6 separate regions of the Homo sapiens genome follow, and regions 2, 3, 4, 5 and 6 are each linked to region 1. The links come from fine-mapping of genetic effects on gene expression. A gene starts in region 1. Each other region holds a variant in brackets. All regions are shown on one strand. Distances are between the middles of the regions.

Region 1 (5,227 bases):
TACCACTGCTATTGCTACCACCAAGTCCTAAAAAAGGGCTAGAAGCACACCTACTATATCCAAAAAGCATTGGAATCTCAACAAGACAGATGACAAGGAAGCAACGCATACACTATCCCAGGGGCTTCAGCTCTTGCATTATTATGCCACTGCCTGAAGGAGAAATAAATAAATAAATGCCACTGCCTGAAGGAGAAAAGGCTTCATCTGGGGCAACTGAGAATACTCAGACATAGCAAGGGTCTGTCAGACTCCATAAAAGCTGTATACTATCAGTCCTTCTCTTGCGTGTGTGGATAAAATGTGCAGGTGCAGCCTAGGCAGGAAAGAGGGAGACAGAATTTCAGATGGAGAACTGCCATACTGCTTGACCCTGGGAGTACCCCTCCTCACTCTGCCAAGCTATGAACTACAGCCTCTACTGACCACAGCATCTGCATGATCTTCAAGGAGCCTGCCTATCAGGTAGGAATTTCTGTGCTAAAAGCCTCCACATCTGACAAGTGCTAAAAACCTCTATGATTTTTTCATTATCTTAATTCTTAAGGGAAAAAAATCAAATAAATACAATAAACGATACAGAATTTTCACAGCAAGGGCATAAGTTCTCAAAGCATATAAGGTTTATCTCAGAAAATAAACACTTCTCATTTAGTTCTATAAAAGTCCACTTCTGAATAGTGTTACTCTTGCTTCCCCAAATGCAATTTAAAGGCAGAAATCACAATCTATTTAAAGACACTCAGAAGATAAATTAGCTTAACAAAGTTAACTTAATTTTTTATATTTAATACTCTCAGATTTATGAGATAAAATATAGATTCTAATAAACAAAAGAAACATACGTAAGAGAAAAGAAAGCCATTTTTGCTTGCTCAAAAGGCTAACAGTACAATATCACGTTAAATGATGAAGAAACTTATTAAACTATCTTAGCACAAATATGGTCCCATTCTTTTTCTAAATTTCCAATGTTTATGGGCATCTTCCATGAAATAGATGAAATATCTTACATCTTCACTTTATAAGCTCTCGAGTCCTATACAACGCACTCCTATTCCTCTACCAGAGCTTTTGCAGACCAGTTTTAATAAATGTATGTCAATCACAATAAAAACACTAAGAAATTTACCAATACATAATTATGAAATTATACTTCTGAAAACATTGGTCTTCCTGAGATTCTGAAGAGAAACCCAATAGAACTGTTTTCTTTTTATTTTTTTCAATAGTGAAGACATGAAAGCATCCTCAACCCAAAGTGTAATATACATTTAATCATGGTTCCTGACAAATTTTTTCTTATGCATTAAAGAAAAGTGTTCTCACTCTTACCTGTATATCCAGCATACCATCCCCAGGAAGCTACCATTCCTAAAAGCCATTTATACATGATTCCTTCGATATACCAGAACCGCTTACTGTCCAGCACTCGAAGGGGCTGAAGTATAATTACATAGCAGATGTAGGATGGAATAGCAACCAGGTTGTTGACGACCATGAAGGCAAACCTCATCAGTGCTTTCACCAAGAGCCAGCCCAGCCACGGAGCTTCTTCCAAAGTTATAGCCATTCTCACACTGGACTCCGTCCTGTCTTTCTGGGGTGAAAGAAAAATTCACTTAAAAAGGAAAATTCATTAAATACATCTAAACAGTCACCAACATAGAAATCGCCCCCAGCACAAAATAAAACAGCGAGGGTCGAAGCTTTCCGGGTGTAGTACCTCGGTGATCTCTCAGGGGAAATTCCAGAGGGGGACAGAGAGCGAGGGAGGAGGAGCCGCACAAGGTCAAGGGAGCTGTTCACCGAGGCACGAAGTATGTCACAATATATTTAGCAAATGATAACACAATTCCCATTCAGTAATCGGTGGCCGTCCCCGCACCGTGTCTCACTGCGGTCGTCTATTGGACTTAGAAAAATAGATCCACTCGCTTCAGACAACCTCAGGATCTCCAAACTGAAGACACAAGTGACATGACCGAAACAGGGTCCCCTCAATAAGATTTCCCAGATACTGAGGACCTCAGTCTCCTCACCACCACGATTCCTGCACACCGATGCATTCCTTTAAAAGGTCTCTGGCTCTAGCGAAGAGTTACCCTCAAAATTCTCATTTGTAGCAATAGGGTTTTTGTTTCCCTTTTTTTTTTAAGAAAAAAAATGGGGGGCCTAGAAAAAAAGCTTACAAGGTGAGAGGAAGAAAGTAGGGGGTTATAATGCGAAAAAGAGGAAGGACAGGAGTAGGGGGAAGGGAGCAAAAGCCAGAAAGAGGTAAAAGCCAAGGAACTGGGGATGAAGAGAATGAGATTTCCGACCAGAGGGCAAGGAAGCAGGGGATGATGAAAGGGGCAGAGAAGAGGCGACCGCAGCGCGGGGAGCCGGTGGAGCCTGCAGCGGTTTCCGCGGATGTGGAAGGGTCGTGGCGGCGGGCGCGGCCCGCGCGCCGGGCTCACCTCGGCGGGCGCGGACGGCGGGCGGCTGCGGAGAGCGGGGGCGGGTGTCCCCCGCCGAGGGGTCGCGGTCATGGACGCGGTGGCGGCCCAAGCGGCCCGAGGCGCTGCGCGAGCGGGCGCGCTGGCGCCCTACTCCCCTCGCGGCTGCCTGCGGACAGAGGGACGGCGGGGACTCAGAGGCCGGACCTGTCACCCGGGCGGGTCCCGGGGAGGCGGGCGGATGCCCCGCGCCCCCGCCTCCTCCCCGGGGCCTACCGCGCCCTCGTCCCTCAGGCCGCTGCCGCCTCCCCGGGCCACGCGACGACGACACCCCCTTCCCCGCCCCCAGCGCCTCCCCTGGCCCGGCTCCGCTGCCGCTCTGGGGCCTGCGACCGCGGAGCCGGAGGTTACCTCGGGCTGGCCGGGCCCCAGCCGGGGCTTTGGGAGTCAGAGGAGCCGGAAGAATGCATGGCCGGCGGCGGGGCCGGCGGAAGAAGGCGGTGGCGGGGCCCTGCCCCGCTCCGGCTGTGGCGCGGCCCGCGCCCGTTCCCCGGCGGCGCCGAGACTCGGTCCCCAAGGGCCCGGCCGCGTTCGCCCGGACTGGCGGGGAGGGGCGGCGGGAGGAAGCGGCGGGAGTCGGGACTGCGGCGGAGCCGCTCCCACAGCGCCCTCTAATGAAAGCGCCGCCGCCGCTGCCTGGCCCGCTTGCCCCGCCTGGCCCGCTCCCCCTACCCCTGCGCCAGCGAGTCGGGGCCCTCGGGGCTACCTGGACGCTCGGCCAGGACCTCAGTGAGTCCAGAACATACTGAGGGAAAGGGCCGCTCGGAAAGATCTAGGAATGAACACCCATCCTCACACCCCAGGAGTGCCTTGGTTTCAGTTGAGAGCCCCCTTTCAGCCAACACGGCCGCCTTTCATTGTTAGGGCTCTCTTCTCTGCCCAAACTAGGAACCTGTCTCCTTGACGGCTAAATGTCCACTTTTCATTCTTAATGAAACCCGGTTGCACTCATGGCTTTTCTTCTTAACCTCTGCAGTGTATTATTGTCTAGAGTTTCAAATTCATTCTTTTTACGGTCAAAAGTCTTGTTTCAGGAAAGCAGCTGGAACATTAATGGCAATTCCACTTTCCCATTCATCGCCCCCGCCCCCACCACCCCACCAAGAAACTCAGTGGGAATGAATGGTCTACACAGAGAAACTGAAATCTGGTTAGTCAAGAAGGAAAAAACAACCAAGTGCCTGGCATTAAGTAAGTACTCACCCGCCCGCCCTCCCCCGCCCGCCATAAAAAGAAAAACCGAAAAGACAAAAAACAGTGGCCATGGGAACTCCTAGACAGACCCCGTCACTTGGGATACTATAGCTGCATTCTGGTTCAAAGGCTGGACCACCTGAAGGAAAATAGAGAAATAGTCCATTGACCTACCCCCTTGAGCATTCTTAAATGATCTGCCTAAATTTTAGTTTTTAAAAATCCTGTTTATAAAACCTTATGTCCCTTAAGCACATTTGTAAATGGAGGGGATGGGGCAGGGCAGATTTCACACTCCCTAGGGAACTGCCATATTTGAATCAGAATGCCACCTATTCTGCCTATTTTGAAAATGTTCATCACAGCGTTTGCTCTGGACTCTCAACTTTCTCTAATTTCAGTTCCTCTTAGGTCCACAGGTGAAGGAAAGATATGCCCCATTCTATTCCTTGCATTCTCTCTTTATTGACAAGGTAGTAAGATCTTTAAATAAATCTCATGAGAGAGATAATATATATACTTTATTATTCAAAATATGTCATTATATTCTTCAGTAAGATAGGTGAGGTACATATTTATTTCCACAATCAAGAATAAACTCTAAGGATTCCATCTGGTCCATGCAATTCAGCTTTCCCACATGCTGCGTAAACGTTGGCTGACACCTGGAGAGAGATAACCTACAATGGGATTTACACGTGATTCCTGGATCAGGGACCATCTGCCAGAGGACCAGACACAGCAGCACTTGATGAAATGCAATTAGTACCAGGCCCAGAATTCATTTTCAGGCTCAGAAAAGAGCCAGAGGTTGGGCAGGACCTCTGGCTCTTTAGTGTACAAAAACAACACTTGAAGTGTCTACCAAAGAGACAGATTCTTCAGCATCATACCAGAACATTTTAATAATCTAGGTCCAGTGGACCTGAGAACCTGCTTTTTAAAAAGCGTCATAGGTGATTCTGATGCAAGTAGTATGCAGACCTTGCTTTAAGAAACCCTGACTTAGAGGTATTCTGAGATGATCACATTCTCTTCTAGACCCTTCATAATTTTAAATCATTTGATCATATGTGTTCTCATGTGTGTTAGTCAGCTAGAGCTGCCATAACAAAATACTGCAAACTGGGTGGCTTAAACAACAGAAACTTATTTTCTCGAAGTTCTGAAGGCCAAGATCAGAGATCAAAGTGTGGGGAGGTCTGGTTTCTTCTGAGGCCTGTCCCCTCGGCTTGCTGATCACCATCTCTCATTGCAGAATTCTGCCATTTCAGTACCTCCTTATGGAAGGAGTAGGGAATACCTAATCTCCTTGATCTTTTCAGATATCCTCATATTAACTGCTTCCAACCTCATTGGACTTTTCTTGAAACTCAACCAACAGTACAACACATTATGTTCCAGGTATAGATATGCCCTGGTTTTGTGCCAAGAGTGTAGGAGAGGGGTTATCTTCTTAACTTTCTGACCACAATATCAGTTTCAAGATAATTCAGCTGCTATAATAGATAAGAAACTGTTAGGGCTGACTTCTT
Region 2 (5,227 bases), 130 kb before region 1:
ATTTAGTAAATTCCCAAAGTTGCAAACCGTGTGGACCTACCCAGAGTCACACCAGGACTGGACAGCCCCCACTGGATTATACTGGATATGTGGGCAAACAGCTTATGCCAGATTACCTGGCCAGTAGGCAGGTAGTTGTGTTATTAGCACTATTAAACCATCTTTCTTCCTACTGCCCACAAAAACAGGCGAACTCCTGGGCTTCCCTGTCTATGCTTCCCGCGAAAAGAGAAGCATAGCTATAGGAAATTGAAAAAATGATAAATGGCCCCCTGAGAGAATCATACAATATTATAGGCCTGCTACTTAGGCACAAGACAGCTCGTGAGGATACCGGACCCCCATTTACATGATCAACCGAATCATACGGTTACAAGCTGTCTTAAAAATAATCACTAGTAAAACCAGCAGAGCCTTGACTATTCTGGCCTGGCAAGAAACTCAGATGAGAAATGCTATCTATCAAAATAGATCAGCTCTCGACTACAGCTGAAGGAGAGGTCTGCAGGAAATTTAACCTTACTAATTGCTGCCTACACATAGATAATCAAGGGTAAGTAGTTGAAGACATAGTTAGAGATATGACAAAACTGGCACATGTGCCCGTACAAGTGTGGCATAGATTTGATCCTGGGGCCATGTTTGGAAAATGGTTCCCAGCACTAAGAGGATTTAAAACTCTTATAATAAGAGTTATAATAGTAATAGGAACCTGCTTACTGCTCCCTTGTTTGCTACCTGTACTTCTTCAAATGATAAAAAGCTTCATCACTACCTTAGTTCACCAAAATGCTTCAGCACAATGTACTATGTGAATCACTATCGATCTGTCTTGCAAGAAGACATGGGAAGTAAAAATGAAAGTGAGAACTCCCACTATTGAGTGAGATTCTCAAAGGGGGGGAATAAGGGAGGAGACCACCGCTCATATTGTCTTATGCCCAATTTCTGCCTCCAAAGAAAGAAAAAGTAAAAACTAAAAGACAGAAATGAAATCCACAAGCAGGCAGCCCGGCGCCACACCCTGGGCCTGGTAGTTAAAAATCGACCCCTGACCTAATTGGTTATGTTATCTATAGATTACAGACATTGGATAGAAAAGCACTGTGAAAATCCCTATCCTGTTTTGTTCCGATGTAATTACCGGTGCATGCAGCCCCCAGACACGTACCCCCCACTTGCTCAATCAATCATGCCCCTCTCATGTGCACCCCCTTAGAGTTGTGAGCCCTTAAAAGGGACAGAAATTGCTCACTCGGGGAGCTCGGCTCTTGAGACAGGAGTCTTGCCAATGCCCCCGGCCGAATAAACCCCTTCCTTCTTTAATTCAGAGTTTGAGGACTTTTGTCTGCGGCTCATCCTGCTACAGCATAAGCCGCCAAGCCCGACCATAAAACATGTTTTAAATTAGAAGATGTTCTTTGCACTTTTGTTTTTCTGGAGGAATGTCATGGTACACAGAGTGAAGACCTAACTTAAGGAGGCCTTGGAGCCTGTCAAGCATACAATGATTCAGGTCTGTACCGGGCTGTGGCACTGCCTTCACTCCCCTCCACCCTGGGCAGAGGCAGAGGGCAGGAGAATCTGGTGAGCTGAGGCCACATGTCCACCTGGTGTGGCTGGTGTGGTCCACACAGCTGGAATGATAAAAGCACCGCACTCATCCGTGCCAGGCCCGGTGCTACTCATGCTTCTCCTTCACTCTTCACCACATTCCCAGGACTGAAGCATTGGTTTATTCCCATTTTCCAAAAAAGGAAACTGAGGCTCATAGTGTTTAAGCCTCAAGCCTCAGGCCACCATGAATACTTCTCATCTGCAAAAGAGAACACCCAAATGTGCCCACCCACCCTACAGATTCTTGGAGGTCTGGCTCACTTATCTCCAAGAAAGCCCCCTCTGGACCATCCAGAAGCCACGAGATGGTAACAGTGCTTCCTCTGCAGGGGCTCTGATCGACCTTGGGTCTGCAAGGGGTAGCAGTCAGGGGTCACCTGAGCCTAGCTCAGTGGGTGTGCTCCTCACACTGCATGACCGCATGCTGTGGGTGGGCCTGTGCACATGTGTGTTTGTGCACACAGAGGAAACGAGTGTAGGCGGGGATCAAGGTCATTTTTACAAACAGAAAAGCTGCAGCATCTCCATAACTCAGCTTGTGGGCTAGACAGTCACCACAGAAAAAAGGAAGCCAGACCAAAACTGAACCACTGGACTACTGCAAGCCCGCCCCAGCAGGGAGCCAGTGCAGGACCCCTGTGAGAAATGGGAACTCTGTACTATCTTTATAGCTTTTCTATAAATCTAAAACTCTTCAAAAATAAAGCATTTATTAACAACAATGACAACAAAAGCATTGACTAAGCTCTGTGAACTGAGAATTTTGTTCTTTACCAAATGGGGATTTCTAACACATCTTTTCAAGTGGTTTGGCAGCATCTTGGAGCTTCCCATTGCTAACAGCGTGCTAATGACAACTGCCCTTAAAGGAGGCCTCCTGCAGAGCGCCCGCTGCCCCCGTGACCCTCCTCCAGCTGTCTGTGAGATAAGAGTAGTGATAACATAGCTGCTCTTGGAGGAGCATTGTGTGACGGCCAAGGCCCAGAGGCCCCGAAGAGGAGGCACTGTTACCATCTCTATTTTACAGATGAGGAAACCCAGGCTCTAGAGGGTGAGAAAATGCCAGAGCTGGACCTACAGTTCTGCCTGATTCCAAAGTTCAAATCTTAACCACTGCTAAAGAAATAAAGCGGTATATATACATATATACATATACACACACACACATACATACATACATACATATGTATATATATATATATACACACACATATACATGCATACATATATATATATATATATATATTTTTTTTTTAATTGAGACACGGTCTCACTCTGTTGCCCAGGCTGGAGTGCAATGGTGCAATCATAGTTCACTGCAGCCTCAAACTCCTATACTCAAGCAATCCTCCCACTTCAGCCTCCTGAATAATTGTGATCACAGGCACACACCACCATGCCCAGCTAACTTTTTATTTTATTTTATTTTTGTAGAGGCAGGCTCTCGTTA[T/C]GTTGCCCAGGCTGGACTCAAACTCGTGAGCTCAAGCAATGCTTCTACCTTGGCCTCTCAGAGTGCTGGGATTACAGGTGTGAGCCACCATGCCTGGCCTCATATATTTTATAAATATGAAGGCTCTCTGTACCTCATCCCAAAGGGTGTGGTTTATTACCATCTCTCAGGATTTTACACACTCAGGAAACCCACATACTTCGAGTTCTAGGAACCAAACCCATAGGCCAGAATATGGCTGCCCTCCAAAAAGTACTGTGTGCAGTCTTTGTTGTGAAGTGCCTTCTCAGGGTGGCCCCAAGGTTTTCCCAGACTCTTCCATATTGGTGAGGTTCTGTGTGTCTCCAGGGCTGTCAGAGCCCTCATGCCTCAGCCATCCCTGTAAGGGCAGGAGGACAGGCACAGACAGGTAGACACTGACTCCCTTTCTACCTAGGTCACATGGCACATGGCAGGGCAGACAGGACCACATCCAGACCAGGGCTGTGGTCACCAGGGAAGTCCATTAAACCACTGCATTATGTGACATTCTCTAGAAGGCACCTGGGCAGGGAGGCCAGGGCAACTTAGGTTTAGGGCCAGGTTAACTGCCATGGCTTTTGGGGAGAGAAAGTGACCTAAAATATATAGATACAGGAATTTAATACAAATATGACAGCACACACTTGAATATGATTTGTAGGTTCTGACAACTCAGATGAACCTGGCTTTTCATGAAATCAGCGCTAACCAAAGCGGGCATGTATAGCAATGGGAGCCCTTTCCTTCATCCCAACCTAGATCATTCCCTAATCCCTTTTCTATCCCATCCCACTCAGAACTCAGCTCTCAAGAAGCTCAGTTTCATGATGACCTTGAATTTAATCTACCTTCCCTCGGTGCTTTAAGAGTATTTTTTCTACACTAGATTGATTTACAATGCCTTGTTTGTTTCTTTGTAAGCATTCTTGAGCCTTTCTCAGGCGTCTATGTCAAGGCTTTACCTAAACTAATTGTATTGGGCCACAGCTGTGCACAGGGTAACCAAGAATTCTGGTCTCCCTGGGACCATCCCAGGTTTCAAGTCTGGGCAAACCTCTCAGCCCCAAGAAAACCAAGAGGGTTGGTCAGCTTAGCTATGAAGCTCCTCTTCAGAAGCCTTTCCAGCTGGTCATAGCTAGAGCAGTATTGTCAGTAAGTGGTGTAGACCCTCACATGTGGTCCTTGGAGAGCAACAAGGTGTCCCCTGGGAGCTTATTAGACATGCAGACTCTCAGGCCCCACCCGGCCCTGCTCATCAGAATCTGCTCTTCAGCACAGTCCCTGGGGGCTCCTATGCTTGTCACAGTGGAGAACAGCTGTGCTGGTGGGGAGACTTCCTGCTGAGAAACACAGTGTGGATGACATCTGCTTTTGAGGCACACTTCCAGGGGAGTCCCCCATTTGAACTTAGCCCAAAGCTTTTGGGAAGCCAGTAAAGCACTAGACTAGACCAATTTGAAACCATCCTAACTGGGGCAGAGATCAGTGATAGTCTCCAACAAGGCTCAGGAGGGCTGCAGGCATGTAGGGCACCCAGCAGAGCCCCCACACAGGCCTTTTCTCTCTGAGAATGCAAGGGAAAGAGAGGAATGGCCTCATATCTGCTCTAATTATACATACATATATATATATGTGTGTGTGTGTATCTCTATATATACACATTATATTATATATATACATTATATTTTTTATATGTGTGTGTATATATATATATATATATATATATGAAATTTTTTTTTTTTGAGACAAGATCTCAGTGTTGCCTAGGCTGGAGTGCTGTGGAGCAATCACAGCTCACTGCAGCCTTGACCTCCAGGCTCAAGCAATCCTCCCACCTCAGCCTCTCCAGTAGCTGGGACTACAGGCACTCGTTGCTAGGCCTGGCTAATTCGCTTTTATTTTTAGTAGCGACGGGGTCTCACCATGTTGCCCAGACTGGTCTCAAGCTCCAGAGCTCAAGTGATCCTCCTGCCTCAGCCTCCCAGAGTGCTGGGATTACAGGCGTGAGCCACTGCCACGGGCCTCTAATTTGCATATAATGACAAATGATTCACAGGTGTTGGCACCTTAACTATTGTTAGCTAGAAGTTATTTTTGACACCTCATTTCTGATCTTAATACCCTGCAGTTCTCAACTTG
Region 3 (5,227 bases), 91 kb before region 1:
ATAACTATGATCAGCTTGCTTCTCTGCTCGAAGATTCAGGGGTTCTGGCCTGGGTAGTTTGCCAGCCCATTTCTCAGAACAATGTGGGAGGCAACAAGGGCCTAGAAAGTGGTTTCGAGGAAATGTGGCCAAGAAAGAGGGCCTTGGGGATGGAAGAACTTGGCAAGGAGATCTGAGCTGGCCTGCTGGATCCAGAGCAGTGTCAGGCAGGCAGCCAGGTGGAGCCTGGATGCGAGCTGCTGCCCGGGCGACTGAGGATGGAGGCAGCACGAGTCTCCAGCATCCTTCTGCCAGCAGTGAAATGTGCTCTGAACCTTTCCCTGAGCTTTGTGCCTCCCTCTCTAGGCAGCCCCTAGGGATTAACCCCTGCCCCAAAGCCCTTCAGCATCGCCACAGCTAATCTCTGTGATGCCATCTGCACATGTCAACATGTGACTGTAATGGTGGCAGAGCTTGTGTCCCATCTCTAGGCCCCTTTCCAGTCTACCCAGTAGACACATTCTGCAAACACTAGCTGACTGATCCCACCCCTTTGTCCTGCTTTCTTGTGCAACCTGGTTGTGGTTCCATGGTGTGACTGCACAGTGGGTGGGAAAGGGGGCAGCTCAAATAATGGACAACTGCAGTCAGTGAGGAAAGGAAGGGCACGTGAATTCACAGAGCACCACAAATGTTATTTTGTTCACAGACCTTGCAGACCCCACCCCATGCTGCACTGGGAGGCTGGTTCCTCGGGAAGTCTGGTGGCCCCTGTGCAGATGTCTTAGGCGCCCCTGGCCATGTTCCCTTGGCTCAGTGTTCAGCTGCCCTGTGGCAGGTGGCTCCTGCTCCGTGGGACTCACGCTTACCCCAGGCAGCATCTTTCCCACACCTAGGGCCTTTCAGCTTCAGGCCTTGAGGCTTCTCTGGTGCCATGGGAGCCTTTTCCACCCACTGCAGGGGCAGCCCTTAACCACCGGGGGATGGTCGGTGGATGCCTGGTCTCCTGGCCTTCAGGGCACAGTTCTGGGATGCCTTGGCGGGCTGAGCTTCCACACCCTACAGTTTGCTACTCACATCTCCTCCTCTCTAAGAACATCTTGTGCAGTGCCTTGGCAGGAGGGACAACAAGGGGACATGGACCACCCCCAGGGGCCTGGCTCCTTCCCATTCCTCATTTCCTCCTTCGTGGTTCTCATGACAGGGCAGCCTTCATGAGGTGCCTGCGTTTTACTGCTCTTCTGTTGCCGACTTGAAATTCGTAATGCTCTTTGAACAGGGAGTCGCATTTTCATTTTGTACTGGGTCACACAGACAACGTAGCTGGTCCTGCCTGGTAGTTTGCTGCTTGGGGAGAGGCCTCTGTAAGTGATGAGAGCAAAATGAGACCTGTCCTCTGGCCAAGCTGAGCTCATTGTTTCTTCCCTCCTCTGAGCACAACAGAAACCCAGGCACAGTGGGAGCTTTTATCAGGGTCCCTGTGACAACGGCGCATGGAAGTTGGGGGCTGGGGGGAGACAGGCCTTAGGGGCCAGGGGGAGACAGGCCTTAGGGGCCAGCTGGTCCATCCCCCAACCAGAGTGGGTTTTCCCACCCAGCACCCTGGCACAGGCTCACCCAGCCTCTTTGTGAATTCTTCTAGTGACAAGAAAGGGCCTTTTTTTATTTTATTTTATTTTTTTATCGTGGACTCGAATTGTCATTGCCCCTCACTCTGGTGAAGTGTTACAAGGTTCTCCAAACCCTTCCATGAGGATTATCTCACTGGATTCTCACCACCCTCTCCTTGTGCAGCAGACATTTTCTAAAGAGTGGAAATTAAGGAAATTCCGGTAATTTTCAGATTAGCAGCCCTTGCACCTCCCACTCAGCCTTTTCCCTTCCTTCAACCAGCGATGGAAATCTCACCTAGGAAGCCTTTCAGCCTGTCAAAAAAGAAAAAATGCCTCCTAATTCCTTGTACTAAATTATTCCCTCCCCGCTCCACCCTGGGCTGTAGGTAATGTAATGTCTTTTTTCAGATGTCCTTCACTTTGAATAACAGTCAGAAAATGGCATGAGGTAGGCAGCCTTTTCATAGGCTTGTTAAATGTATTAGACCCCGGTGGAAAGATGGGAGAATAAAGGAGGATCACAGAGCCTCCCTCTCCTAGTGATGACGGTAGAGCACACACCTTTTAAAGTGCCAGTCAAGGAAAGAAACAGAGGCTTCTAAAAGGCTGTGGCTTTTACGCCACCCCCACCTGGAGGAAATACGCCCACCAAGAACATCCTGAGCACTTCACCAATACCTGTCAGTTAGGAAAGCGACTGCCAGAGGGGATGGGCAGGGACGGTACCCAGAGTGGAGGTCCCCACCAGCTTTAGCTTATGTCTTCCAGTGGGCTGCAGGGTTGAGGGGAAAAGCTGGAGCCCATGCCAGGAGCAACCCAGGCAGAGGAAGCCTCACCATGAGGCCCCCCTGGGGTACACTGGCAGACAGACACACACACTGAGCCTTGAGATGTCTGAGGCTGAGGCTGTGGCAGGAGCCCCTGGAAGGAGACACATGTGTCCACTCCCACAGGCCCAGTGCTCCTCCTGCTAATGCAGCTTACAGCAAACCCTCAGATCTTTACTTTCACTTGCTTCTTGTCTGTGGTTTGCAGATTCCTAGTACCTATGCTCTGCCCACCCATGCCTGCCCCTCCTCTCCTCCCACTCTCCCCTAACAGTAAATACCTTTCAAATGAGAAACCCTCTGAGCACCCCTGCTTGCTGGCACCCTCTGTGCTAGAATCTCCTGCTGCAGTCAGACAGGTACCTGGGCGGGGGGTGAAGGGGAGCTGGAGCTGGGCTGGTGAGGTAACCCTGCTGTCCTTCCTCTCCAAGGCCTAATAAAGAGGAAGACAGAGTCTGAGGCAATGCTTCCTGTGACACCAGGTTTCTGCATCCCTCAGACATCGCTCCAATGACAATTTCAATTATTATTCCTGATCGGACATGGCACAGATTCTGAAGGCTGGCTTTCAGTAATCAGCTGTTCCATTTCTCTGCCTCCAAGAAGAAATGCTTTATTAATTCCACATTCATTAACTCATTCATTCCCTTGCTTTTTCTAGCCATCCTTTGGGAAAACAAGGA[CG/C]GGTCTTCTTTATAATAAGCTAGCCCAGAACCACTCTGAATATCGTAATGCCTGAGCAGCCATCTCCATATCCATGAGTTGCTGTTTATGCCAAGCTTCCCACCAGATGATGGTTTGAAGTATTTCCAAATCTTCTCTAAGAGAACTGTTCCATAACCTCATCATGGCCCTGAAGCCTCTCTCTCTTGGAATTCCCAATTTCTGGTGTTACTCTGAAGTTCCGTGAATGGTGGGCTGGACAGCTTGTTGGATATTTGTCTGGGGAATCAAAGGCTCTTAGGGCCAGATGGGGCTTTGAAACATCACCTGCTTCTCATCTCCTCACCCCCACCCCCAGCAGGGCAGAGTTTCGAATACACACCTGCTAATCCAGCTTTGCCTCGTTTCTTTGTGCTCTACCATGATAACCTCAATAGCCATAAGCAATATCTTATTCTAATCTGCCCACTTCCTTCTGATACCCACTAAGAACTGAGCACCCAGAACTTACCACTGGAAGGTAAAGTGTCAATTCTCAAGATATAAACTTCTGAGACTTCTGCAACTAGAAAGGAGAAAGGTTTTCAAAATTACTTTCAATTTCCTGAAGCATTAGGACACTTTCAATGTAGTTTTATATTTAGAATCATATGAATTATACAGAGAACCGTGGGCTGGTGGACAGCTTCCAAATACTAGAAATTATATTTCCCTCCATTTTGATAATTAGTTCAAGGTCTTCACCACAAGTGACATCATGTCTCAGAAGCAAAAATAGGTCCCTATTAAGCCTATGTAATGTCTTGTCTAGTAGATCTGATTTCCTCTTTATGCCCCCGTCTCCTCACCTTCCTAATTGGCGCTCCAACCTCAAAGCTTTTTCTCACTGCTGTCTGGAGCCTTAGATATATTAAATATAGTCTGACTGTGTGGGGTTAGGGACTTGGCTATGCTGATTGCATGTGTCTAACTTAAAAACCAAGAGACCTAGGGCATGATAACAGCTCATTGCAGCCTCAATTCTCTCAGGCTCCAGTGATCCTCCTACTTCAGCTTCTCGAGTAGCTGGGACCACAGGTACACACCACCATGCCTGGCTAATTTTTTTTTTTTTTTAAGTAGACACGGGGTTTCACCATGTTGGCCAGGCTGATCTCCTGTCAGCCTGGTGTCAAACTCCTGGGCTCAAGTGATCCTCCTGCCTTGGCCTCCCAAAGTGCTGGGGTTATAGGCATGAGCCACTGCATTGGGTATGCATGGAACACATCACTTGCAGTTTAGGCACATCTCAATATGAGAATAACTTACATCCTCTGTTAAACCCAGTTGGGGTGAGATAAACACAGCCTCCTTACTGCACATTCAGTACAATGTGCCAGTGTCTTATGTGCTTCCTGTATATAATCTCACTTAATACTGAAAAGAAGTCTTGGCCAGGCATGGTGGCTCACGCCTGTAATCCTAGCACTTTGTGAGGCCAAGGTGGGCGGATCATGAGGTCAGGAGTTCAAGACCAGCCTGGCCAACATGGTGAAACCCCGTCTCTAATAAAAATACAAAAATTAGCCAGGTGTGGTGGTGCACACCTGAAGTCCCAGCTACTCAGGAGGCTGAGGCAGGAGAATCACTGAACCGGGACCCGGGAGGCAGAGGTTGCAGTGAGCCGAGATCACGCGGCTGCACTCTGGGCTGCAGAGTGAGACTCCGTCTCAGAAAAAAAAAAAAAAAGAAGTCTTTGAGCGTTTCCCATTTAACACATAAGGAGAGTGAGGTTGAGAGGATAAGAAACTTGCCAAAGGGCCAAGGTCGAATTGAAGTCCCCGGTTCTGCTGCTCCTGGGCTCCTACTTGGACAAGCCCTTAACACTTGATGGCGCCATGACAGAGGGATATTCGGGCACTAGTGGCCATCGTGGCCTAGAATTTATTACCTACTCTAGTTCCACACTAGAATTCAGAAAAGAAAGAAACTATTATGAGATTGAAATCTGTATCCCCTTTGGTCTAACATAAAAATGTTCTTTTTATCTTCTACTATATAGGGCAAAATTTTTAAAATGCACTTCACTTCCACATCCAAAAAAAAAAAATAATTAATTTCAGGGCTTTTTTCATGGTTAATTGTATCTCTGCAGCAGCTGAGAGG
Region 4 (5,227 bases), 310 kb after region 1:
AACTGGATCAGTCATACATTGCTGGTGCGAATGTGAAATGGTACAGAAACTCTGGAAAACAGTTTGGCAGTTTTTAATAAAACCAAATGTGCAATTACCATATGACCCAGCAAGTGTACTCCTGGGCATTTATCCCAGAGACATGAAGACTTATGTTCACAAAAAAACCTGTATACAAATGTTCATAGAAGCTTTATTCATAACAGCCAAAAAACTGGAGACAGCCCAGATGTCCTTCAGTGGGCGACTGGTTAAACAAACTGGTACATTCATACCATGGGATACTCAGCAATAAAAAGGAATGAACTATTGATGAATGCAACATCTTGGATGAATCTTCAGGCAATTATGCTGAATAAAAAGAGTCAATTCTGTACTGTATGGTTCCAACATTTCATAAAAATGCTTTTAAAAAGCTTAACATTGGGCCAGGCACAGTGGCTCATGCCTGCCATCCCAGCATTTTGGGAGGCCAAGGTGAGTGGATCACAAGGTCAGGAGTTTGAGACTGGCCTGACCAACATGATGAAACCCTGTCTCTACTACAAATACAAAAATTAGCCAGTCATGGTGGCACGCACCTATAATCCCAGCTACTCAGGAGGCTGAGGCCTGGGCGACAGAGCAAGACTTCATCTCAAAAAAAAAAGTTCAACATCACTTATCATTAGAAAAATGTAAATCAAAACCACAATGAAATACCATCTCACACCAGTCAGAATGGCTATTAAAAAGTCGAAAAATAGGCCACACACGGTGGCTCACGCCTGTAATCCCAGCACTTTGGGAGGCTGAGATGGGCAGATCACCTGAGGTCGGGAGTTCGAGACCAGCCTGACCAACATGGAGAAACCCCATCTCTACTAAAAATACAAAATTAGCCAGGCATGGTGGTGCATGACTGTAATCCCAGCTACTCGGGAGGCTGAGGCAGGAGAATTGCTTGAACCCAGGAGATGGACGTTACAGTGAGCCAAGATTGCACCATTGCACTCTAGACTGGGCAACAGAGTGAGACTCCATCTCAAAAAAAAAAAAAAAAAGAAAAAAAAGAGTAAAAAAGTAACAGATGCTGGCAAGATTGCAGAGAGCAGAGAAAAAGGAACAAATGCTTATACACTGTTCATGGTAGTGTAAATTAGTTCAACCATTGTGGAAAGCAATGTGGTGATTCCGCAAGGAGCTAGAAACAGAACTACCCTCCAACCCAGGAATCCCATTACTTGGTATATACCCAAAGGAACATAAAGCATTCTCACATGCACACGTATGTTCATTGCAGCACTGTTCACAATAGCAAAGACATGGAATCAACCCAAATGTCCATCATTGCTAGACTGGATAAAGAAAATGTGGTACATATACACCATGGAATACTATGTAGCCATAAAAAACAACAAGATCATTTCATTTGCAGGAACATGGATGAAGCTGGAAACCGTTATCCTTAGCAATGAATGCAGGAACAGAAAACCAAATACCACGTGTTCTCACTGATAAGTGAGAGCTAAATGATAAGAACTCATGGACGCAAAGAGGGGAACAAAAGACACTGAGGCCTACCTGAGGGTGGAGGGTGAGAGGAAGGAGAGGATCAGGAAAAATAACTAACAGGTTCTAGGCTTAATATCTGGTGACAAAATAATCTGTGCAACAAACCTCTGTGACATGAGTTTACCTATATAACAAGCCTGCACATGTACCCCTGAACTTAAAATAAAATTTTTTAAGTCTTTTCTAAAATATTTTTGAAATGACAAAATTGTAGAAATGGAGAACAGATTAGTGGTTGTCAAGGGTTAGGGACAGGGAAAGGGAGGGAGAGATGAGTGTGTTATAAAAGGCAAACACAGGGATCCTTGTGGGAAGGGAACTGTTCTGTACCTTGATGGCGGTGGTGGATATACAAGCCTACCATGTGATAAAATTTGATAGAACTAAACACATGCACACACACACATGAGTGCAAGTAAAACTGGAGCAATCTGAATAAGTTTGGGTAGTTGTATCAATGCCCATATCCTGGTTGTGATATTGTACTACAGTTTTGCAAGATGTTACCTTTGGGGGAAACTGGATAAAGGGTACGTGTAGTATTTCTTACAACTGCATGTGCATTTACAATTATCTCAAAAATAAAAGTTTAATTTTAAAACAACATATTCCACATTGATCTTCCAAATTTGAATTTGCCTTTCTTA[C/A]CAGTAGAGCCTCAGCCAACACCAGTATCCAGAGAACATTTGCTCCACTGACATGAGATTGAGTATAACCTTGGCTTGGACCAAGGGCCTTACTTTTCAGCAAAAGGTGTGTGGAAGTGGGCACGTGACCAAGGTATGCACTAGTTCTATCTCATACCCCAAAGCTACTGGCCTGATAGAGTGATGGAGTGGCTGCTTAAAGATGCAGCTGAAAAAAAAGCTATTAGAACTGATAAACAAATTCTGTAAAGTTGCAAGATACGAAATGAACCTGCAAAAATCAGTAGCATTTCTATATGCCAACAGTGAACAACCTGGAAAAGAAATCAAGAAAGTAATCCAATTTGCAATAGCTATGAATAAAATAAAATACCTAGGAATAAATTTAACCAAAGAAGTGAAAGATCCCTACAATGCAAACTATAAGACATTGATGCAAGAAATTGAAGAGGCCACAAGAAAAGGAAAGATATTCCATGTTCATGGATTGGAAGAATTAATGTTGTTAAAATGTTCATACTACCCAAAGCAATCTACAGATTTAATGAACTCTCTATATCTCTATCAAAATATCAATGACATTCTTCATAGAAAAAGGAAAAGCAATCCTAAAATTTATATGGAACCACAAAAGACCCTGAATAGCCAAAGCCATCCTGAGCAAAAAGAACAAAGTGGGAGGAATCACATTACCCAACTTCTTATACTATAGAACTATCATAACTAAAACAGCATGGTACTTGCATAAAACCAGACACATAGACCAATGGAACAGAGTAAAGAACCCAGAAATAAATCCATACATCTACAGTGAACTCAGTTTTGACAAAGGTGCCAAGAACATACATGGGGCAAAGGACAATATCTTCAATAAATGGTGCTGGGGAAATTGGATATCCATATGCAGGATGACACTATATCCCTGTCTGTCACTATATACAAAAATCAAATCAAAATTGATTAAAGACTTAAATCTGGCTAGGTGCAGTGGGTCACGCCTGTAATCCCAGCACTTTGGGAGGCCGAGGTGGGCGGAATTCCTGAGCTCAGGAGTTCGAGACCAGCCTGGGCAACACGGTGAAACCCCGTCTCTACTAAAATACAAAAAAAAATTAGCCGGGTGCTGCAGCGTGCGCCTGTAATCTCAGCTACTGGGGAGGCTGAGGCAGTAGGATCGCTTGAACCTAGGAGGCAGAGGTTGCAGTGAGCTGAGATTGTGCCACAGCACTCCAGCCTAGGCGACAGAGCAAGACTGTCTTAAAAAAAAAAAAAAAAAAAAAAGAGAGAGACTTAAATCTAATACCTCAAACTATGAAAATACTAAAAGAAAACATTGGGGAAACTCTCCAGGACAGTGGTCAGAGCAAAGATTTCTTAATACTCCAAAAGCACAGGCAACCAAAGCAAAAATGGACAAATGGGATTGCCTCAAATTAAAAACTTCTGCACAGGGCTGGTGTAGTGGCTCATGCCTGTAATCTCAGCACTTTGGGAGGCTAAGATGGAAGGATCACTTGAGGTCAGGAGTTCAAGACCAGCCTAGTCAACATAATGAGACCCCATCTCTAAAAAACAAAAAACAAATTAAAAAAAAACCACTTCTGCATGGCAAGGGAAACAATCAACAAAGTGAAGAGACAGCTCACAGAATGGAGAAAATATATGCAAACTATCCATCAGAGAAGGGATTAATAAGAATATATAAGGAGCTCAAACAACTCAATAGGGAAAAATCTAATAATCTAATTAAAAATAAGCAAAAGATCTAAATAGACCTTTCTTAAAAGAAACATATCAATGGCAAACAGATATATGAAAAGTTGCTCAACATGATTGATTATCAGAAAAATGCAAATAAAAACTACAGTGAGATATCATCTCATCCTGGTTCAAATGGCTTTTATCCAAAAGATGCAATAGGAATTTTTGGCAAGGATGTGGAGAAAAGGGAACCCTCGTACACTGTTGGTGGCAATGTAAATTAGTACAACCACTATGGAGAACAGTTTGGAGGTTCCTCAAAAAGTTAAAAATAGAACTACCATATGATCCAGGAATCCCACTGCTAAGTACACACCCAATAGAAAGGAAATCAGTATATTAAAGAGATATCTGCACTCCCATGTTTATTGCAGCACTATGCACAATAGCCAAGATTTGGAATCAACCTAAGTGTCCATCAACAGATGAATGGCTAAAGTAAATGTGGTACATATACATAATGGATTACTATTCGACCATAAAAAAGAATGAGATCCTGTCATTTGCAACAACATGGATGGAACTGGAGGACATTATGTTAAGTGAAATAAGCCAGGCAGAGAAAGACAAACTTCACATGTTCTCACTGATTTGTGGAAGCTAAAAATTAAAACAACTGAACTCATGGAGATAGAGAATAAAAGGGTGATTACCAGAAGCTGGGAAAGGTAGTGGGGAAAGTCGTGGCAGGAGGGGGAGAGGGAAATGATTGTTAATGGGTACAAAAATATGGTTAGAGACAATGAATAAGATCTAGTATTTGATAGCACAAGGTTACTACAGTCAGCAATAATTTGTTGTACATTTTAGATTAACTGAGTACAATTGGAATGTTCATAACACAAAGAAATGATGAATGCTTAAAGTGACAGTTACTCCATTTTTTAAAACCTTTCCTATGGTGCTGAGATAAATACCCCATTTATCCTGATGTGAATATTACACATTGTATGCTTGTTTCAAAATATCTCATGTGCCCCATAAATATATACTATGTATCCATAAAATTAAAAATTAAAAAACAATTTTAAAATGATGCAGCTGAGGTGCCAAATTGGAGTTGATATCCCACAAAGTTGAGGTGTCATCCTCTAGGGTATCATCCTAAATCAACAACCATGATATGACACTGTGTCCCCAGTGGGCAGAATACATAGGTCCAGCAACCAAGGTGTAGACCCACTTACCATCACTCCAGTGACCTCCTGGAGGAATATGCGCATCCTTTCTCTGCAACTTTGGCTTCTGTGGCTCTGGAAGTCCTA
Region 5 (5,227 bases), 270 kb after region 1:
TGACTTGTGTATATTAAACTTTCCCTGCATCCCTGGTTTGAAATCCATTTGATCATGGTAGATTATCTTTTTGATATACTGTTGGATTTGGTTAGCTAGTATTTTGTTGAGGATTTTTGCATCTATGTTCATCAGGGATATTGGTCTGTAGTTTTCTTTTTTGTCATGTCCTTTCCTGGTTTTGGTATTAGAGTGATACTGGCTTCATAGGATGATTTAGGGAGTATTCCCTCTTTCTCTTTTGGAATGGTTTCAGTAAGATTGGTACCAGTTCTTCTTTGAATGTCTGATAGAATTCAGCAGTGAATCCATCTGGTCCTGGACTTTTTCTTCTTGGCAATTTTTTTATTACCATTTCAATCTAAGTGCTTGTTATTGGTCTGTTCAGAGTTCTTATTTCTTCCTGGTTTAATCTAGGAGGTTGTATATTTCCAGGAATTTATCCATCTCCTCTAGGTTTTCTAGTTTGTGAGCACAAATGTGTTCATAGTAGCCTTGAATGATCTTTTGTATTTCTGTGGTATTCGTTGTTAATATTTCCTGTTTCATTTCTAATTGAACTTATTTGGATCTTCTCTCTTCTTTTCTTGGTTAATCTCACTAATGGGCTATCAATTTTGTTTATCTTTTCAAAGAACCAGCTTTTTGTTTCATTTATCTTTTGTATTTTGTTGTTGTTGTTTCATTTTTATTAAGTTCTACTCTGGTCTTTGTTATATCTTTCCTCCTCCTGGGTTTGGGTTTGGTTTGTTCTTATTTCTCTAGTTCTTGAGGTGTGACCTTAGATTGTCAATTTGTGCTCTTTCAGACTTTTTGATGTAGGCACTTAATGCTGTGAACTTTCCTCTTAGCACTGCTTTTGCTGTATCTTAGAGGTTTTGTTAGGTTGTGTCACTTTTTTCATTCAGTTCAAAGAATTTTTTTAATTTCCAGCTTGATTTTGATTTCATTATTGACCCAAAGATCATTCAGGAGCGGATTATTTAATGTTGCATGGTTCTAAGAATTCCCTTTGGAGTTGACTTCCAATTTTATTCCACTATGGTCTGAGAGAGTACTTGATATAATTTTGATTTTCTTAAATTTATTGAGACTTGTTTTGTGGCCTATCATATGGTCTCTATCTTGGAGAATGTTCCATGAATGTTCTGATGAATAGAATGTATATTCTGCAGTTGTTGGGTAGAATGTTCTGTAAATACCTGTTAAGTCCATTTGTTCTAGGGTATAAGTCCATTGTTTCTATGTTGACTTACTGTATTGAAGTCCCCCACTATGAGATGAGATTCTATTTTTGTGTATTTCAAGGTTTTGCTCTAAGATTTAGAACTCCTTTTAGCAGTTTTTGTAAACTATGCTGGCTTGGTAGTGGCAAATTCTCTCAGCGTTTGAAAAAGACTTTCATCTTTTCTTCATTTATGAAGCTTAGTTTCACTGGATACAAAATTCTTGGCTGATAATTATTTTGTCAGCTAATAATTATTTAATAAGGCTAAAGATAAGACCTTTATCCCCTCTAGCTTGTAGAGTATCTGCTGTTAATCTGATAGGTTTTTCCTTTACAGGTTACCTGATGCTTTTGCCTCCCAGCTCTTAAGATTTTTTCCTTCATCTTGACTTTAGATAGCCTGATGACTGTGTGTCTAGGTGATGATCTTTTTGTGATGAATTTCCTGGGTGTTCTTTGAGCTTCTTGTATTTGGATGTCTAGATCTCGAGCAAGGCCAGAGAAGTTTTTATTCTTTTGCCTTTGTCTTTGTTGAATTGGGTTAATTCAAGAGCCTTGTCTTTGAGCTCCAAAATTCTTTCTTCTACTTGTTTGGTTCTATTGTTAAAACTTTCCAGTGTATTTTGCATTTCTCTAAATGTGTCTTTCATTTCCAGAAGTCATGATTGTTTTTTATTTATG[A/AT]TATCTATTTCTCTGGAGATTTTTTTCGTCTACATCCTGTTTTGTTTTATTTTTAAATTTAAGTTGGTTTTCATCTTTCTCTGGTGCTTCCTTGAGTAGCTTAATAATTGACCTTCTAAATTCTTTTCTGGCAATTCAAAGATTTATTATTGGTTTGGATCCATTGCTGGTAAGCTAGTATAATCTTTTAGGGGTGGTTATAGAACCTTGTTTTGTCATATTACCTGAATTGTTTTTCTGGTTCCTTCTCGTTTGGGTGGACTATGTCAGAAGAAAGATCTGGGACTCAATGTGTGCTGTTTAAATTCTTTTGTCCCACAGAGTGATCCCTTGGTGTGGTGCTCTCCCCCTTCCCTAGGGGTGGGGCTTTCTGAGAGCTGGACTGCAGTGATTGTTATTGCTCTTCTGGGTCGAGCCACCCAGCAGAGCTACTGGGTTCTAGGCTGGTACTGGAGAGTGTCTGCTAAGAGTCCTGTGATGTGATCTGTCTTCAGGTCTGTATGCCATGGATACTAGCACCTGCTCTAATGGAGGTGGTAGGAAAGGAGTGAAGTGGACTGTGTGAGAGTACTTGGTTGTAGTTTTATTTAGTGTACTGGTTGTCTTGAATGCTAGTTATACTAGCACTGAAGTTATTACATGGACAGACTCAGGACCTCTCTGGTTGGCCAAGATGTTACAGGCAGTAGAATTAGCTGTTATTTTCTGCTTTCTTGGAGCAGGGTTGTTCTGTTGAATTGCTGTAATGGCTTGAATTGGTTGGCCTCCAGCCAGGAGGTGGCACTTTCAAGAGAGTATCAACTGCAGTAGTATAGCGGGGGATATAAGCTTGCCTTACGGTTTCCTGGATAGGTTTTCGGGCTTCTCAGGCAATGAGCAGGGCCCCACGAGTTTTTGTCTTTTGTTTACGGCTACCAGGGCGGTTAGAGAAAGACCATCTGGTGGGGGCAGGGATAGTGTGTCTGAGCTCAGACTCCTTGGGCAGGGCTTGCTGTGGCCTCTGGGCGATGGGAGTGGTGGTTAACAGGCCAATGGAGTTACGTTCTAAGGGAGATTATGGCTGCCTCTGCTGCTTCATACACATCACCAGGGAAATAGGGGAAAGCCGGCAGTGACAGACCACAGCCAGCAAGGCCAGTCTCACTCCTGCAGTGCTTCCCCAACAGCCAACAGAACCAAATTTATATCCATGCCTCCAGTGCACAGGGTGGAGATCTTGCCCTAGACTACAAAACTCCCCGCCGAGAAAGCAAGCAGGGCTGTTAGGCCTTGTCCATCTGCCTGCCACAGCTTCTGTGCTCATATCTGCACTTCCTATTTGTCCCATCCCCCTGCAGATTCTGCCCAGGAAAATTCACGCTCAGTTGAAATCATTACAAAGTTCAGCTGAAAGTCTCCTTCTCCCTATGGTCCTTCCCCAATTCCATTGGCTGCCCTCTCCAAAGACCCCTGTGAGATAGTCAGAAATGGTTTCCCTGGGGACCAGGAGTGCCTACAGGGCTCTTCCTGCTGCTGCTTCTACTTTTATATTTTGTTTGGCTCTCTAAATTCATTTCAGTTCTCCTTCTCCCATGATCTGGATCCTCAGTGAGGATGTGTGCAGAAGTGGACTTTACCCCTCTCACACTGTTTTTTGTTTGTTTGTTTGTTTGTTTGTTTGTTTTGAAACGGAGTCTCGCTGTCAGGCAGGCTGGAGTGCAGTGCATGCGATCTTGGCTCACTGCAACTTCCACCTCCCAGGTTCAAGCAACTCTTCTGCCTCAGCCTCCTGAGTAGCTGGGACTACAGGTGCACACCACCATGCCTGGCTAATTTTTGTATTTTTAGTAGAGACAGGGTTTCACCATGTTGGCCAGGCTAGTGTTGAACTCCTGACCTCAAGTGATCCACCCACCTCGGCCTCCCATAGTGCTGGGATTACAGGCATGAGCCACCACACCCAGCCACCCTCTCACACTTTGGACCTTGAGAGCTTGTTTGGAGGTTCTAGCAGGGGAGCACATTTACTCGTATACCCTTGACTGAAGACCGATTCTCCTCTTATCAGGAATGGTTGTCCTCTTCGACCAAGCACACAGCTTCGGGAGCCCTCTCACACTTTGGGCACTCAATTTTTCTGCTGTCTTGTGGATTTTGCAGCAGCAAGCCACTTCTTTCAAAGGATCTGTTAATTCTTTTGTTTTTTCTGGTATGTTCCTGTGATAGTTCTTGGAGCCAAAGTTCACTATGTGAGTCTCCACATGCTGTTCTGTCTGTCTGAGTGGCAAATTAGTCCTGCCTCCTATCTGCCACTTTCCCCTTAAATCAGTCTCATTTTTGTAAAGAAAAAAGTTGAGATGTATAGTATGTATCACATGCACAAATATAGAAAGTATGCTAAACATGGTTTACGTAAGTGCTTTAAATTTTTTCTCTTTATGTTTTTCGGTATTTTGTCGATTTTTACAAGTATATATTTTATAATGGGATAGTTGGGAGGTTGGTGACTTGGAAAAGAGAAAGGAAAATGATAAAAGGGTGTGGTTGGAATCAAGTGATGTATACCTACTTACTGGCAAATTGACCCTTAGATGATTAGGTTAGCTATGATTTTTCTTGATGAGAATTTAGGGACTTTGTATGGCTTTCACTTCTGATCTTCATGATCCTCTCCTCTTTTTCAGTAACAGTAACGAGTAGCCAGAGTACTCCTGCCAAAGCCCCCAGGGCAAAGTGCAATCCATCCAATTCTTCCCCGTCATCCGCAGCTTGTGCCCCAAGCTGTGCTGGAGACCTCCCTCTTCCTTCAAATACTCCTACGTTCTCTATTAAAACCTCTCCTGCCAAGGCCCGGTCTCCCATCAACAGAAGAGGCTCTGTCTCCTCCGTCTCTCCCAAGCCACCTTCATCTTTCAAGATGTCGATTAGAAACTGGGTGACCCGAACACCTTCCTCATCACCACCCATCACTCCACCTGCTTCGGAGACCAAGATCATGTCTCCGAGAAAAGCCCTTATTCCTGTGAGCCAGAAGTCATCCCAAGCAGAGGCTTGCTCTGAGTCTAGAAATAGAGTAAAGAGGAGGCTAGACTCAAGCTGTCTGGAGAGTGTGAAACAAAAGTGTGTGAAGAGTTGTAACTGTGTGACTGAGCTTGATGGCCAAGTTGAAAATCTTCATTTGGATCTGTGCTGCCTTGCTGGTAACCAGGAAGACCTTAGTAAGGACTCTCTAGGTCCTACCAAATCAAGCAAAATTGAAGGAGCTGGTACCAGTATCTCAGAGCCTCCGTCTCCTATCAGTCCGTATGCTTCAGAAAGCTGTGGAACGCTACCTCTTCC
Region 6 (5,227 bases), 220 kb after region 1:
ATTTCACACTTATAGGGAAAATATACTAGAGTATTTCCCTTTCAAAGAAAAGTAAATTAGGTGGATGTTAGAGTTTTTGTAAAAACTGTTATCTTCTGATTTATAAAATAGACTTTTCTTAATCTCTATACATCATTAGCATAACTATATTTCCTCTAAAGCATAGGACTATTATAGCACTATTTTTAAAAAATCAATATAAGGAAGGGGTTGCAAAGGTTCAGCTACTATGAAAACTGTTTTATCCAGTAGATACATACCCTTTGATCTGGTTGAATGTATCTTTCTGTGACTCATTGGGGAATATATGAACAGAAATAGAAGTACTTCAGCCAGGCTCAGTGGCTCACACCTAAAATCCCAGCACTTTAGGACGCCAAGGTAGGTCTGGGCACAGTGGCTCACACTTGTAATCCCCGAACTTTGGGAGGCCAAGGCGGGTGGATCACTTGAGGTCAGGAGTTCAAGGCAGCCTGGCCAACATGGTGAAATCCCATCTCTACTAAAATTGCAAAAAATCAGCTGGGCGTGGTGGCGCACCCCTGTAATCCCAGCTACTTGGGATGCTGAGACAAGAGACTCACTTGAACCTGAGAGGCAGAGGTTGCAGTGAGCCAAGATCGTGCCATTGCATTCTAGCCTGGGTGACAGTGAGACTTCATCTCCAAAAAAAAAAAAAAAAAAGAAATAGAAGTATTTGTCTCCACCCATAATAGTTTGAGAGGAAAGAAAAAGTTGTGACAAGGAAATTTAAAACTAATAGACTCCTTATAAAAATTAGCCGGGCATGGTGGTGCATGCCTGTAGTCCCAGCTACTGGGGAGGCTGATGCAAGAGAATCGCTTGAACCTGGGAGGCGGAAGTTGCAGTGAGCTGAGATCACGCCACTGCATTCCTGCCTAGGTGACATAGCGAGACTGTCTCTCAAAAACTAATAGACTATTACATAGTCATGATTGTGGTAAAAATAAGTAAATAAAAATATGGTTAAAAAAACTAATAGACTCAGCCTGCTGGCAGCCTACATCATCATATGCCTTTGTTTGCCATTGGCCAGTACCACTCTTGTTTTAAGTACTACCCTCGATTTAGCCCTTCTCTAAATAAGAGATTATCTGAAGAAAATTTTGGTGGTTTTGAGTAAGCTTAAAAATTTTTGTAGCTAGGCATGGTGGCTCACGCCTGTAATCCCAGCACTTTGGGAGGCTGAGGTGGGTGGATCACTTGAGGTCAGGAGTTCGAGAGCAGCCTGACCAGCATGGTGAAACCCCATCTCTAGTAAAAATACAAAATTAGCTGGGCGTGGTGGCGCATGCCTGTAATCCCACCTACTTGGGATGCTGAGGCAGGAGAATCACTTGAACCCAGGAGGTGGAGGTTGCAGTGAGCCAAACTGCACTATTGCACTCCAGTCTGGGTGACAGAGCAAGACTCCGTCTGAAAAAAAAAAAAAAAATTGTGTTACTCTATATATTTTTTTCTTTATTTCTGCTTTAGCTCCCAATATGGAACATGTACTAGCAGTTGCCAATGAAGAAGGCTTTGTTCGATTGTATAACACAGAATCACAAAGTTTCAGAAAGAAGTGCTTCAAAGGTAAGTCTAGGTCTACAATTTTTGTTTTAACATTTAAAAAACTTTACACATCCTCAAGTATATTATTATTTGAACACATTCTGTTTTAGTCTGTCTTCTGTTGCTATAAAGGAATAACTGAGACTGGGTAGTTTATATAGAAAAAGTTTACTTGGTGTGTGATTCTGCTGGCTAGAATAGTAGACATCTGGTGAAGGCCTCAGGCTGCCCCCACTCCTGGCAGAAGGCAAAGAGGAGCCCATGAATACAGAGGTCACATGGCAAGAGAAGGGTGTACTACCAAGCTCTTTTTTAACAATCAGCTCTCCAGGGAACTAATAGAGTGAGAACTCACTCATCTTTTCACCTCTTAGGGAGGGCGTTAATCTGTTCATGAGGGATCCACCCCCATGACCCAAATGCCTCCCATTAGGTCCCACTTCCAACTTTGGGGATTAAATTATAACATGAGATTTGGGAAGGGACAAACATCTGTAGTATATATAACACATTCCCAATGATATTAACTTCTGATTAAGTCTTTTTAGGGACCAGATTAGATGTGAATGGTGGACTGCCTATCTGTCAATAACTGTTAACTGTGACAATGCCTTTACTCAAAGTTAAGAAAAATACTTTTTAGGATTAAAAACAATTCTTCAAAAAGTTAAATCTTTAACACTTAATGTGATTAGAGAAGTGTTGCTTTAAAATACTTATATTAATCAAGCATTTTTCATGTTTAAAGCAAAGTTCTAACCTTAAGAAGCTGATAATTTGGAACCCATAAGTCAAGTGTTGAAATAACTGAAATAAAACAAAGACTATAAATGATGTAGAAGTAGAAAGAAAACACACTGGTGTCAAAGAGAAAGCTCTCATGTAGTAAAGAAGGCTAGGAAAACTTACGAAGCATGGGGCATTTGAGTTGGATTATGGTATTTAGACCAGTGGAAATGGAAGGGGGCACTCCAGGTGACGGGAAAAGCATTAGCAAAGGTCTAGAGATAGAAAAGCATAGGATATAATAGGAAGTGACCAATTTGTTTGGAATAAGGTATCGAGAACAGTGAGAGATGAGGCTTGCAACCAAGATAAAGACTAAAGAATGCAAAATGTTGAATGTCAAACTAAAGTATTTTACATTCCATTCAGAGAGCATCATGAAGTTCTTTTTGTTTTTGGT[T/TTTG]TTGTTGTTGTTGTTGTTGTTGTTGTTGTATTTTTGGTAGAGATGGGGTTTCACCACATTAGCCAGGCTGGTTAACTCCTGGCCTCAAGTGATCTGCCTGTCTTGGCCTCCCAAAGTGCTGGGATTACAGGTGTTAGCCACTGTGCCCAGCCAGTATCATGAAGATTTTTGAACTGGAATATATTTCAGAAAGATTCCATTGTAGAGAATATATTACTAGTGAACTCATGGAAAGGAATTTGACATCAGATGGTAGTAGTTCTCATGTGGTAATTAAGGGAATGTGTAATTTCTGTGAGTCCACAAATTCTCTTTGCTCATGCCAAAGGGTGCTGACTACTGATTTTTTATGTGTGCATCTTTATTTTTATTATTTTAAGTTCCAGGGTACATGTGCAGGACATGCAGGTTTGTTACGTAGGTAAACATGTGCCGTGGTGGTTTGCTGCACATACCAACCCATCACCTAGGTATTAAGCCCAGCATGCATTAGCTATTTTTCCTGATGTTCTCCCTCTCCATGCTCCCCCTCAAGAGGCCCCAGTGTGTGTTGTTCCCCTCCCTGTGTCCATGTGTTCTCGTTGTTCAGCTCCCACTTATGAGTGAGAACATACGGTGTTTGGTTTTCTGTTTGTGCATTAGTTTGCTGAGGATAATGACTTCCAGCTCCATCCATGTCCCTGCAAAGGACATGATCTCATTCCTCTTATGGCTGCATTGTATTCCACAGTGTATATGTACCACATTTTCTTTATCCAATCTATCATTGATGGGCATTTGGGTTGATTCCATGTCTTTGCCATTGTGAATAATGCTGCAGTGAACATATGCATGCATGTATCTTTATAATAGAATGATTTATGTTCCTTTGGGTATATACCCAGTAATGGGATTGCTGGGTCAAATGGTATTTCTGGTTCTAGGTCTTTGAGGAAGCGCCACACTGTCTTCCACAACGGTTGAATTAATTTACATTCCCACCAACAGTGTAAAACTGTTGCTATCTCTCCGCAGCCTTGCCAGCATCTGTTGTTTCTTGACTTTTTAAATAATTGCCATTCTGACTGACGTGAAATGATATCTCATTGTGGTTTTGATTTGCATTTCTCTAATGATCAACTACTGATCTTTTTACTACTACAGCTTTCCAGGCATTTAAAGTTATATTAATATGGGTACCACAGAATACAATTTAGACATTTCACATTTACCATTTTCTTTGTTTAGAATGGATGGCTCACTGGAATGCCGTCTTTGACCTGGCCTGGGTTCCTGGTGAACTTAAACTTGTAAGTGACTTTATTTCATTAGGATCTGGGTAAATACTGATAAGGGAGTGCTTTATTAAATTGTGTTTACCTTATTTTTGAAAGGTTACAGCAGCAGGTGATCAAACAGCCAAATTTTGGGACGTAAAAGCTGGTGAGCTGATTGGAACATGCAAAGGTCATCAATGCAGCCTCAAGTCAGTTGCCTTTTCTAAGTTTGAGAAAGGTAGGTTTGTGCTTATCTTCTTTCATCTCCTTAACCTTCTTTGCAGTTGGGAGATAAGAACCTGTAATTGTTTCTACCCTTTCCCCTGTCAAAGTTACTGCTTTACCTACATAGATGATTAAGATTCTTTTTTTGGAGACAGTTTCGTTCTGTTGCCCAGGCTGGAGTGCAGTGGCGCCATCTCGGCTCACTGCTACCTCCGCTGCCTCCCAGGTTCAAGTGATTCTCCTGCGTCAGCCTCCGGAGTAGCTGGGACTACAGGCGCACATCACCATGCCCAGCTAATTTTTGTATTTTTAGTAGAGACGGGGTTTCACCATGTTGGCCAGGCTGGTCTAGAACTCCTGAGCTCAGGCAATCCACCTGCCTCAGCCTCCCAAAGTGCTAGGATCACAGGCGTGAGCCGCTGCACCCAGCCAGGTGATTAAGATTCTAACATGACTGAAAACCTTAATAAAATTAAATTGGTTTTAGGCCCACTCTTCTGGACATTATCTCTAGCTTGTCCCTGAAAGTCAAGAGTCTTTGATAAGTTTTTCTGTAATCTTGCACATAAGGTAAAGATTTATAAACAGCTACAATACCATTGTTCAACCTTGATTGTTCATTGAAGTTAAAACCTTGTACTGGGCACTCATTAACTATTTGTAAAACAGAGTTACTTTAACTCTGCTTGTAAAATCTAAATGAGCTATAAGGCTGATAAACAACATAATTTTTTTCTACCTAAAAATTTATCATGTATTTGGTTTAAATGGCCTGTTTTTTGTTTTTTGTTTGTTTGTTTGTTTTTTGAGACGGAGTCTCTGTCACCCAGGCTGGAGTGCAGAGGCTCGATCTCAGCTCACTGCAGCCTCCATCCCCCGGGTTCAAGCAATCCTCTCCCTCAGCGTCCCAAGTACCTGGGAGGGATTACAGGAGCCTGCCACCACGCCCAGCTAATTTTTGTGTTTTTAGTAGATCTGGGGTTTC

Which allele goes with the higher level. Alleles are on the strand shown, and positions count from the first base shown. SD is a standard deviation of normalised expression in the study named. Not every link is listed here.
In carriers of allele T in region 2, the expression in lymphoblastoid cells of the gene that starts at base 3,040 in region 1 tends to be higher than with C alone (moderate effect, 0.70 SD a copy in GENCORD).
For the expression in spinal cord of the gene that starts at base 3,040 in region 1, C is the low allele of the variant in region 3 and CG is the other (small effect, 0.27 SD a copy in GTEx).

The links. PIP is the estimated chance that this variant, and not a neighbour inherited with it, causes the effect. A credible set is the group of variants that fine-mapping cannot tell apart.
Region 2: its variant is the best candidate, but not a certain one, in a credible set for the expression of LPGAT1 in lymphoblastoid cells (GENCORD, PIP 0.56).
Region 3: its variant is the best candidate, but not a certain one, in a credible set for the expression of LPGAT1 in spinal cord (GTEx, PIP 0.54).
Region 4: its variant is the best candidate, but not a certain one, in a credible set for the expression of LPGAT1 in whole blood (TOPMed, PIP 0.86).
Region 5: its variant is the best candidate, but not a certain one, in a credible set for the expression of LPGAT1 in whole blood (INTERVAL, PIP 0.67).
Region 6: its variant is the best candidate, but not a certain one, in a credible set for the expression of LPGAT1 in whole blood (INTERVAL, PIP 0.84).

What each region holds. Positions count from the first base shown.
Region 1 is chr1:211,827,724-211,832,950 of GRCh38, forward strand. It overlaps LPGAT1 (lysophosphatidylglycerol acyltransferase 1), which reads right to left and starts at 3,040. Exons shown (of 8, transcript NM_014873.3): 1 at 2,850-3,040; 2 at 1,336-1,600. The coding sequence starts at 1,573. LPGAT1-AS1 (LPGAT1 antisense RNA 1) reads left to right here and starts at 3,238. Exons shown (of 6, transcript NR_135820.1): 1 at 3,238-3,317; 2 at 3,533-3,689. RefSeq lists a silencer at 2,465-3,224.
Region 2 is chr1:211,693,214-211,698,440 of GRCh38, forward strand. No RefSeq gene overlaps it. Among named protein-coding and RNA genes, the nearest start is that of NEK2-DT, 20 kb to the left of the region's middle. RefSeq lists an enhancer at 2,046-2,545. The variant T/C (reference allele first, on the strand shown) is at 3,068.
Region 3 is chr1:211,736,365-211,741,591 of GRCh38, forward strand. No RefSeq gene overlaps it. Among named protein-coding and RNA genes, the nearest start is that of NEK2-DT, 63 kb to the left of the region's middle. The variant CG/C (reference allele first, on the strand shown) is at 3,103.
Region 4 is chr1:212,133,313-212,138,539 of GRCh38, forward strand. No RefSeq gene overlaps it. Among named protein-coding and RNA genes, the nearest start is that of MIR3122, 58 kb to the left of the region's middle. The variant C/A (reference allele first, on the strand shown) is at 2,202.
Region 5 is chr1:212,095,680-212,100,906 of GRCh38, forward strand. It overlaps DTL (denticleless E3 ubiquitin protein ligase adapter), which reads left to right. Exons shown (of 15, transcript NM_016448.4): 14 at 4,573-5,227. It also overlaps the pseudogene RN7SKP98. Among named protein-coding and RNA genes, the nearest start is that of MIR3122, 21 kb to the left of the region's middle. The variant A/AT (reference allele first, on the strand shown) is at 1,910.
Region 6 is chr1:212,043,163-212,048,389 of GRCh38, forward strand. It overlaps DTL (denticleless E3 ubiquitin protein ligase adapter), which reads left to right. Exons shown (of 15, transcript NM_016448.4): 3 at 1,498-1,596; 4 at 3,989-4,050; 5 at 4,135-4,255. Among named protein-coding and RNA genes, the nearest start is that of DTL, 10 kb to the left of the region's middle. The variant T/TTTG (reference allele first, on the strand shown) is at 2,762.